Linked DNA regions of Homo sapiens: region 2 is linked to region 1. A link means that fine-mapping ties the variant in region 1 to the expression of a gene that starts in the linked region. Tissue or cell type: unexposed skin. Region 1 holds a variant in brackets; the other region holds the start of a gene. All regions are shown on one strand. Distances are from middle to middle.

Region 1 (5,398 bases):
AAAAAAAAAACTATACATTCCTGTTATATAATAAAATTAAAATAATTTCCAGGCATACCTTTCCTTCATTGCACTTTCCTCAATGTGTAACTACATGCATTAAACTGCATATGTGATGCCAGTCCTTTAGCCCACTAGAACATAGTTACCCAGAGAGCAGTTGGGATTGCTCTACATTGCATCTGACACAAATCCTAGCAGCCTGCAGGCATTCAATAGGTATTTTATGAATTCATAAATAAATAACTAAATGTTAAAGCACACTTAAGAGATTTAGCAACATTTATAAAAGAATATTTCAGAATGTCAAGATATGTAAGTATAACCTAACAAGATATCAAACCAGAAGCAATACTTTTTAAAAATTGAAGAAAAAAAACCCATAAAAACGTAAAGCATCTGTAGAGTAAAAATACCATAAAGCTAAAAGATAAGCACAAGACTCAGAGAAACTACGTGGTAAATTGTAGTGGGGGGTTCATATCCATAATATATTTAGAACTCTTAAAAATAAATAATAAAAAGGCAAGTAAGTAAATAATAAAATAAGGAAACAATATAAACAAAGAAGTCACAAAAAATAAAAATGTCCAGTAATATGTGAAAATTTTTCCTTCATCTTGACTATTGTGGAGTTTAGAGAGATGGAAGATCACATCAAAATTAAAACAAATGTAAATTATATCTTTTCCTCAGATACCTATAAATAAGATTGATGTTTTCCAGCACTTTCAAGGGTACAGACAACAGAAACCACTATTTCTTTTATTAGAATTAAAAATGGGAGTAGTTTTGGGAGATGGCAATTTATCAAAATATTAAAATTATTAATGTGCTTCTTCTTTGACTTAGAAATTTCACTTTTAGAAGTCTACTTACTCTATGGAAATACTGACATATGTGCATTCAAGGGCAAACTTTTCATTGTAGCATTCTTTGTAAATAGTAAATTAAAAGGAATCAACTCAAATGCCCCTCAATTAAATACACTAGTTTACATACATATTATGTTGTCTATGCAGTCTTTAATGCACTTTAACGCATTTAAGATGCAAATTAGTTCTATCAATATGTACCTCTATGAAAAAACTTACTGAAAATATAAATCTAAAACTAAGTTACAGAACAAGCTGCATAGTGTGACTCAATTCATGTCATAAAAGTATACAAAAGTTTCCGACATGTACAAATGGAGCTGATACTCTGCATGAAACATAGTACTTAAAATGTTTGATTAATGAATGAACAAGTCAATGAATAAATAGAATGAAACCTTAAAGTATCCAGCATGTTGAAAACAGTGATCACCTATGGGTTGGAGAGTACAATGGGAGAGGTGAAATGTTGTAAGGATATGAAGGAGACTATTCTATTTTATATATTTACTTGAATTTTTTAAACAAGTTGCATTCACAATGTTGAATTTAAAATTAATTTAAATTAAAATATAAAAAAGATCTGGCTATTAGAAAAATATTAAAGTAAAAACACAAAGTTGAGAGCAAAATTAAGCTAAATGAATAGTCCATTTTTACAATGAAAACAAAAAGCACCTAAATTACAAGTGCCACTTAGATCAAAAGCTGAAATAAAATAATGTAATTAGGCTAGTGAGGTGACTTTCTACCACCCTATTTAATTCTAAAGTTGATAGTCAGTTATTTATATGGACGTGACCTCAAGTGAATGGATTACATAGAGTTTGAGTGTTAACTTTCTATATCTTAGGCTCACTCTCAATATTTTTTAGATAAATAATTTATTACATTATTAAAATGATTTTGACATTGGTCAATAGGTACAAACATAAAGAAAAGAAATAAGTTCTAATGTTTGATAGCAGAATAGGGTGACTATACATAGCAATAATATTTTGTACATGTCAAAGTAACTAAAAGAGAGGATTTGAAATATTCCCAACACATAGAAATAACAAATACTCCATAATGGTATTGCTGAGTCAAATGGTATTTCTGGTTCTAGATCCTTGAGGAATTGCCACACTGTCTTCCACAATGGTTGAATTAATTACACTCCCACCAACAGTGTAAAAGCGTTCCTGTTTCTCCACAGCCGCGCCAGCATCTGTTGTTTCCTGACTTTTTAATGATCGCCATTCTAACTGGCTTCAGATGGTATCTCATTGTGGTTTTGATTTGCATTTCTCTAATGACCAGTGATGATGAGCTTTTTTTTCTGTTTGTGGGCTGCATAAATGTCTTCTTTTGAGAAGTGTCTGTTCATATCCTTCACCCACTTTTTGGTGGGGTTGTTTTTTTC[T/C]TGTAAATTTGTTTATTTCTTGTACATAATCCTTAATTATGTAAGGATACATAATAACAGATTGTAGATTCTGGGTATTAGACCTCTGTCAGATACTTAAAGTAAAATAAAAATTTTTTTAAAGTAAAACCAAAAAAAAAAAAGAAATGACAAATACTCAAGGTGATAGATATTCCAAGTACCCTGGCTTTACTGGCTTTATCATTACACATTCTATGCATGGAACAAACACATATACCTCATAAATATGTAAAATATTATGTATCAATAAGAAATGGGAAAAAGACTAAAGTCAACTGTGATTTTAGAAACAAATTACATTCTAAGGTTTCACCAAACAGTGTTACAGCTTTTGCCAAAATCCATAATCAATCTTTTCCTTAATTCATTCTGTAATTTAAATGCTATCTAGTAACCAAAAGAATAATGCTAAATATAAATAAACAAAAAAGGGTGAAAACTGGTTTTGAAATATGCCATACCTAAAGATGTGAATCCTGTTTATAATTGCCAATTAAGGGTATCTGCATAGAAGTCTAAATTATATCGATCACCCCTCTGGACTAGAGTTTGAATTCAGAATGAATGCAAGGAAGACCCAGTATTGTTCCAGCAAATACAATAAATACTACTCAGCTGCTGCAGGGCCAAAGAGCCCTGAGGGGGTAAAACAATAGGCAAGCTCGTGTAGCAGTCTTCAAATCTTTGTCTACAGTTTCATTCCTGGAGTATTTAGAACTGTGAATAATTTAGTAATCTGTACACTTCCTGATGTAAAATCTGTTATCTGAATTAAGAGATTTTTGTATCTCTTAAAGCAGTACAGCTACATTTAATAGAATTATGCTTTCCTGGCTGATTTACATTTGCTGCCAGACAAGTTAAAAGTACTAAATAAAAATCCAATAAATACATCTTCCCCAATTAAAGAGAGGCCACTCTTCACCAATTTAAATGGCAATTAAATAGTTCACTAATTTTATAGCTGTTTCAGTTAACAACATAATATAACCATTATATGTGTCCATTAACTGTAATATAAGCCTACCAGATGGAAAAAGTCAGAAGAAAATTCAGCTAGAAGTTAAAATGTATTTTGTAATAAACTACATATGAATGAATGTATATGGTGACCTAGAACTAGGATATGATGACTTTCAACAGAAGCAACAAGAAAAAGTTAAATCCTAATAGCAGGAAATTTTTCAAGTTTTTATTTTGCATTTATCTGCTTCACTCTTAATAAGCAAAAAAAAAAACCTGACATTTGGCAATCATAAGTTTTTCCATAAGCACAAATAGAACCATAGCGCCTGGTTCCAGACTACATATAATATTTCTGAGAAAATGCATACATGCCATGAAGATCTTAACATGCCAGTTAAGGAAGAAACAGAGAAACATAAATAGTGATTAAATAGTGATGCAGTAGTTCATTTATTATTTTATAATACAAATATATTTTGTATCAGGACTGGTTTTACCAATGAAATTAAAAATGCCTGGTAGACTAGCAATAATAAAATAGGTAAGGTGACTTGGAGTCAGGGGAGTCATAAAAGCACCGTACATTGATTCTTTTTGAAAATGTGTGTATCTTCTCATGTTAGCCAACGTAAATATGATTCAGATATGTTTGGGAGCAGCATCACAACAATCTACAATAAAAATTACTTTTAACAGTCTCACAGAAAACTTACCTATAGGTTTGGGAAGTGTTATACTGTAATTTTATGAGAAAAATAATGCATTTTTTAGTTTATTATCAAATATTTTACTTAGGCAGAAAGATAGTAAAATATATTTTATTTAAGAATAGTAATAATAGCACTATCATATTAATCAAAATGCAAAGAAAAGTTTAAAAATTTCTAATACTCTAAAAGTTCTATTGTTGATTAAAAATTTGTTGATATTTCATTTATAACAGCTGCTCTGCTATGAAATTATAGTAAAAGTGAATAGAAATACCTATAACATTTTTTATATCTTCTTTATTTCTTCTCCCACGTCCCCCCGAGATGGAGTGTCACTCTGTCGCCCAGGCTGGAGAGTGCAGTGGTGCGATCTCGGCTCACTGCAACCTCCGCCTCCTAGATTCAAGCGATTCTCCTGCCTCAGCCTCCTGAGTAGATGGGATTACAGGCACATGCCACCACACCCAGCTAATTTTTGTATTCTTAGTAGAGACAGGGTTTGCCCATGTTGGCCAGGCTAGTCTCGAACTCTTGACCTTGTGATCCGCCAGCCTCAGCTTCCCAAAGTGCTGGGATTACAGGCGTGAGCCACTGTGCCCAGGTATATCTTCTTTAACTACGTTGGCACAGTTAAGTTAGAAATACTGAAATAGGAGCTAAAAAGCCAGATTAAACTCTGGCTGGTCTTCCATTTCATGGCAGGATGTTGGGAGAAATTACTAGTGTCCCTGGCGTACAGGAGCTTAACAAACATTAAGAAATACTGTTTTTTACTAAGTGATATAAAAGATTCTTCAGACTTTCAACACAGGGAATTTTAATGTTTATTTTATCCATAGTTTGGAAAATGTGAGTGCTCAAATACTGGTTTCTGGCTCAACTGCTTAGTCACAGAAATCTAACAATTTCGGTTTCTAAATAATGAACATCATTTTAATAATGTTTTTGGAGAGAAAAAATTGTTAAATGCATATTAATTAATATGTTAGGGATAATACTAGAGACGTCTCATTTGTAATAAGCCTTCATCTTTTAAAAAAAATTTATTAGTTATTTTAACATCAATCCACTTTAGAAGCTTATTTTCTTTTTTAAAAAAATTATACTTTAAGTTCTGTGATACATGTGTAGAACATGCAGGTTTGTCACATAGGTATACACATGCCATGGTGGTTTGCTGCACCCATCAACCTGTCATCTACATTAGGTATTTCTCCAAATGCTATCCCTCCCCTAACCCCACCACCTCCCGCAACAGGCCCTGGTGTGTGATGTTCCCCTCTCTGTGTCCATGTGTTCTCATTGTTCAATTCCCCCTTATGAGTGAGAACATGCAGTGTTTGGTTTTCTGTTCCTGTGTTAGTTTGCTGAGAATGATGGTTTCATCCATGTCCCTGCAAAGGACATGAACTCATCTTTTT
Region 2 (5,398 bases), 130 kb before region 1:
ACTGAATTTTACCTTCTAGTTGAATTTGCAAGGTCATATGAGTAAACACTGATGTGAATTTTAAGTCTTGGTGACATGTAACAGGAAAGACAAGGTCTAAATTTTAAGAAAAGACTGAAAAGCCACTTACTTCTTGCAAATGGAAGAAAACTCTGTGCTATTTGAATTATTGTTTAAGAAAATCCTATGCAGTTTAAGAAAAACAGGATAAGAACTAACACAAAATGCTGCTTTTCTTTAGACAGATCATTAAGTCTCTCCACCTAAACTCTTGAAAAATCTGTAACGATTTTGTCTGCTTGTCAAATTGCTCCTCCAGTAATTTCACAGTTACAACCCACGCACATATCGACAGAGCATTTCGATTCAAATGTAACTTTCTAACAACAAACTTATATAGAAAAGGTGTCATAGGCGTAATTGAGAGGAACAGAAGATCAAGAGTGAAGAAAATTACATCTTCTTTTCTCAATTAAGAAAAAAACCTAAATCATAAATATTGTATTCATATACATTTACAAACTGATAGACCACTAAACGTTTTTTCTGATTTAAAACTGCTTTCCACCACTGCTGCTGGTGCATATATTAATGAGGAAAAACCCACTGTGACAGAAATCTTCCCCTCACGGCATAGCCACCTCCACCCCCATAAAAGAAAGCTTTTCAGTGTTACCTGAGAAAAAAACATCACAACTAATTACATCATTTTTCTTGGTTCCCGCATCTACCAAGGCTTGCTCAGACACATTCAACCTGTTACCACAATCCATGATTTAACTCAAGGTTTTATTTAGTGTAATGAATATCATTCCTCTATTTAAAATGCTGTTTATCTTTCCTTAAGCAAATTGATCGGCCAATAAGTATCATTATTAGGTATTACAAAAAAGATGTTGTCATAAGGTAATTTATTCTAAGTTAAAATAGTCCACTGAGATGTCTTGTAAGAACAGAAATTACCATTAAAATGTCCCATTTACAATCACTGATGAAAACTTGGGCTATTTGTGCATATAATAAAGGGAGCTGAGGTTTTTTAATTTAAAAATAGATCACATGCTATTAATGTAGATTTTTGTGTTTCTATTACAGATTATCATGAATAAGGGTACTAAGGACTAAAATTGGGAAATCAACTTATCTATTATCTCTTGCTTATATAAAACCTTCATGTATTTAATATCGATGGTCCTTTATTACGTGTGTGTGTGTGTGTGTATGCACCATATATGCCTCAAAGTATGTGTGTGTACATTAAGAGAAGAAACCCAGCATAGCTAAATGGCTAAAAATATGGTAACTATACTGTGCTTCCACCCTATATATTTTATCACATAAAATACAGTTTTTTACGATAAGTGCCTTTATATACATTTGAAATTAACTTTGACAGCTGAATCTTTTTCAACACTACTCTTGAATATTACCTTTATGTAGTATTACCTGTGTTACTGCTTCAGTACTAAGAAAATGAGACCATTTTCTCTGACATTACATAAGCCCGACAGCAGACGAGAGAAACGCTGCCTATCTGGGGTGAAAGCTAGCTCCCTCTGAAGCTACCATTTGACACGTTAAAACAATTCTCGAGTTGATTGAATCATTCCAAATTACCAATATTTGACCATTTCAACCTTCAAAAATGGAAATTTCACTTTAACTCATACAGCCAGATATACCTAGACAAGCTTTAAAAACACATAAAAAAATTTCCTTTAACATTATTACTCAGAAGTTGATTACAGTCAACTATATAGAAAGGAAAATCTTAACGCTTCCATACACCCTGAAAATTTATGAACTTTTGCTCCATCTGCTTAAACCTATATTGCATCCTCGTTTTTAGTTTTTATTTTTTAAAGATTGTTTTAAAAAGGTGCACCAATCAAAAGATAATTAATGGTCTTGGTCTTTGTTCTATCAGATGTCCATGCAAAGATATGGATAATGGTTCCATCACCAAATTTTTAACTAACTCCAAATATTGTATTTGTGGCTCACACTAGGGATCCCTTGACCCAGCTCGGCAAGTGTGAAATCACGAAATAAATGAAGGTTAACAAAGACTGGTCTAAGGAATAGTTCACTACAATACCGCAATGCTCTTCTCACTAATACTCGACTCTGCATTTCGGTACTTATATCTGAAAGATTTGCAAATAATGACAACATTCGTGCCAGACATTACTGCAAGTGAGGAACAGACTAAAGGAGAGGAAGGAACAAAATGCCTTCCAAGAGAGAAACATTCATTAGCCTTACTGGCAAGTGTCTAAAGCAAACAAGGAAACTGCAAAATAATTACTTAGTTACAAATAAACGCTTTTAGCACAGTACCTTTTTGTGTCTGTCCCTCTTCCATATTCTCTTCCATGGCTACCTTTCTTCAGTAGAATCTGGTACACGGAATTAATCAAAAGCTCAATTAGATGTTGGAAAAACTGGGGGTTTTTTTTTTTTTTTTTTTTTTTTTTTTTTTTTTTTTTTCCTGGGAAGCTCCAACAGCAGTGGCTTGGGCAAGTCCTCAGAGCTTAGCTCAGGCTCCCTCGTTCCTCTTGTTTGCTTGGAGACAGGCTGTCAAGTGTAATTTCATTCAAATTACTCTTCCGTGAAGATTATCAATTTTTCTTCTCAAAGCTGCCCATTGTGTACCACTGTAAGCAGGTATTCAAACAAATAGCCTGAGAATTTTGGGGGGAAATTTGGTCTGAATCCCAGGAGCAGAGACACTATGATTCACAAGTCTTGCTTTGCATTTAAAATGGGGAAAAGAAATTGAGGTTTGTATTGAAATCTGGGCTTTAAATTGGAAACAGGCTGAGCTGTGAACAGATGGAGGGGTGTCCTCCTAACATGAAGCCGACCACCAACCCGTAATTCCCCCCTTCATTCCAGAGTGGGAAAGCCCAGATTCCCGTCGGTTCTTTATGCTGCAGCAGTGGCTTCTCACCCAGTCAGATACGTTGCAAAAAAACTGTGTTTTCCTTTTCTCTCCTCACTAAGTATTTAGTTAATTTGATTTAAGGTGCCAAGAAAGGATGCAGTTATACCATCTCAGGGTTTATCTGCAAAAGTTTATTACTAAGACAGGACTTGTAATCCCACACCTTTGAGATTTAAAAAGAAATAGAAGCGTGGCTGTCAAAGGAGTGAGTATAAAGCTCTAAGCCTGAGAGATACATGTTTTAAGTAATTATTTTACTTAGTGCCATATGACTCTTAAGTAAAAGGGAGAAAACCACTGGAAGGAAAAACCCTATTGATGTCTTTGTTATTTATTGTTATGATTATAGCCCACGAAAGCTGCTGGTTTCCAATGAGAATCTCTTGAAAGGGAATTTCTTTAAAGGTCAGTGTTAGGGAATGAGAAGAGTGATGTAAGGGAGGAACAAATTTTAGATAAGAAACAAGAGGATAGCAATTTATAATGGGAATCTGCAAGCTGATTTGGAATGCAAATCACAATGCTGCAGTCTGGCGATAATTAGCATTTGTACTTCAGCCTACTGAGTGACAGGGCACAGTCCAAGAGTCTCAATACTTCACAAAAGGTATAGCAAGAAAATAAACAGTATCTCTTTCAAGGAGCATAAACCTTTCCTAGAGTAGAAAGAAAGGATCCTTGCCTCTGTCTTCATCTCCAAATCAGCCAGCACACACACACACAGGGACAGAAACACACACAGAGGGACAGAAAGACACACACAAGCACACACACGGAGAGGCACACACACACACAAGGACACACACACAGACATAACTGTAACTCTCTGCCTTTAATGAAAAATAGCTCACATCCTCATTATCCATAGCATACGTTTCTTGCATTATAGCTTGTATTTCACATGCATTCTTTAAAGCAGGCCAGTAGCATGCTGCACATCACCCTCTAAATATTACAAAAGCAGCTATTTAGAGGAAACACAATTACTGCATTCCACTTTATTTCTCATAAATGAATGTTTAGTCCTCTTACTTGTATAATCATTTGTTATTATTTTCTCTTTTCAAATGAATTTTGTCCAAAAATAACTGGAGTTCAAATAACTCAAAACCTATCTCTTTGGAATATATATCAATGTGTATTCAAGGGTTTTTGAGAGAGCTGCTTGCTCAGTGCACAGATTGAGAGAGAGAAACCATAAGGGAAATCAAAAAGCCAAATTGTAGCAGCCTCTCTGCTTCAACTCATCCCTAGGCTGACATAACCTGGCATATAATCAACACAGAACGGAGCAACGCTCCTCATTTAGATCCTTCATTCGTTTTATACCATGGAAATCATTAGTGAAAGCAATTGTTTATTGTAGTGCCAGTAGATACAATAATGTCACCTTAAATTTTTAGAACACTTTACAATCTATAAAACATGATTACATACATTAACCCGTTGTAAGTCAAATGGGAAAAGCATAATTTTCCCCACTTTATGATGAAAACAAAAAACAAAAAACACGGATGCTCAGGGACACCTAGAGACTGGGCTAATAAATCACCAAGTAAGTCTTAGAACCCATGTCTGTTGATTTCTTGCCTAATGTTCTGATCTTAGAAGCTAATTTTCCTTCCTACTCTGTTCCTTTATGAGTATCTTCAGCATCTTCAGAAATCAGCCTCAGTTCATAGCTTTCTTTTTCACCACACATATAAAGCAAAAGAGGGAAATGAGAGGGAAAGGAAATTTTAAAAATATTCATGATTTCTTTTTCTTCTGGAAATTTTGCAGCAGAATACACTCATATAACCATTCACTTTTTGTCTAAAACAGGCTTTTTCATGTGACAATTGTTACCAACATAAGTCAACATCAACTTGTACCAATTTTTAAAATATACAAAAAAGTCCTCAGAGCCAGTCCAAATGGACTCGTCAAATGAATTAAGAGAGATGCATACACATACATAGCCTCCTCACAGCAATCACCTGTCAGTAGGCTTTCAGTATTTATTGGGGTAAAATATAAAAGAAAAATTTGCCATTTTGATCATTTTTAAATCTGTAGTTCAGTGGCATTAGGTACATTCACATCATTCTGTAACCATGGCCACCAGCTATCTCCAGGACTTTTTCATCTCCACAAACTGAAACTCTGTGCCCATTAAAAACGCACTCCTCCTTTCCCCTTCCTCCTGTTTGATGGCAGTTGAGTTGTTGATGATTTTCTCTTTTTTTTTTGAGATGGAGTCTCGTTCTTTTGCCCAGGCCAGAGTGCAGTGGCATGATCTCAGCTCACTGCAACTTCTGCCTCCAGGGTTTGAGCAATTCTCCTGCCTCAGCCTCCCGAGTAGCTGGGATTTCAGGCATGCACCACCACACCCAGTTAGTTTTTGTATTTTTAGTGGAGACCGGGTTGGTTTCACCATGTTGGCCAGGCTGGTGTCAAATTCCTGACCTC

Direction of the effects. Positions count from the first base shown, and alleles are read on the strand shown. Sizes are in standard deviations (SD) of each study's normalised expression.
For the expression in unexposed skin of the gene that starts at base 2,414 in region 2, allele C in region 1 goes with a higher level than allele T (small effect, 0.34 SD a copy in GTEx).

Evidence for each region. PIP is the estimated chance that this variant, and not a neighbour inherited with it, causes the effect.
Region 2: GPM6A starts here. The variant in region 1 is fine-mapped to the expression of GPM6A in unexposed skin (GTEx, PIP above 0.99).

Annotation. Positions count from the first base shown.
Region 1 is chr4:175,936,327-175,941,724 of GRCh38, forward strand. The region is part of intron 3 of LOC107984113 (a long non-coding RNA gene); the gene reads right to left. It also overlaps a transcript of GPM6A not described here. Among named protein-coding and RNA genes, the nearest start is that of GPM6A, 130 kb to the left of the region's middle. The variant T/C (reference allele first, on the strand shown) is at 2,281.
Region 2 is chr4:175,809,851-175,815,248 of GRCh38, forward strand. GPM6A (glycoprotein M6A) reads right to left here and starts at 2,414. Exons shown (of 7, transcript NM_201591.3): 1 at 2,341-2,414. The coding sequence starts at 2,377. GPM6A-DT (GPM6A divergent transcript) reads left to right here. Exons shown (of 8, transcript NR_125901.1): 8 at 2,010-2,339.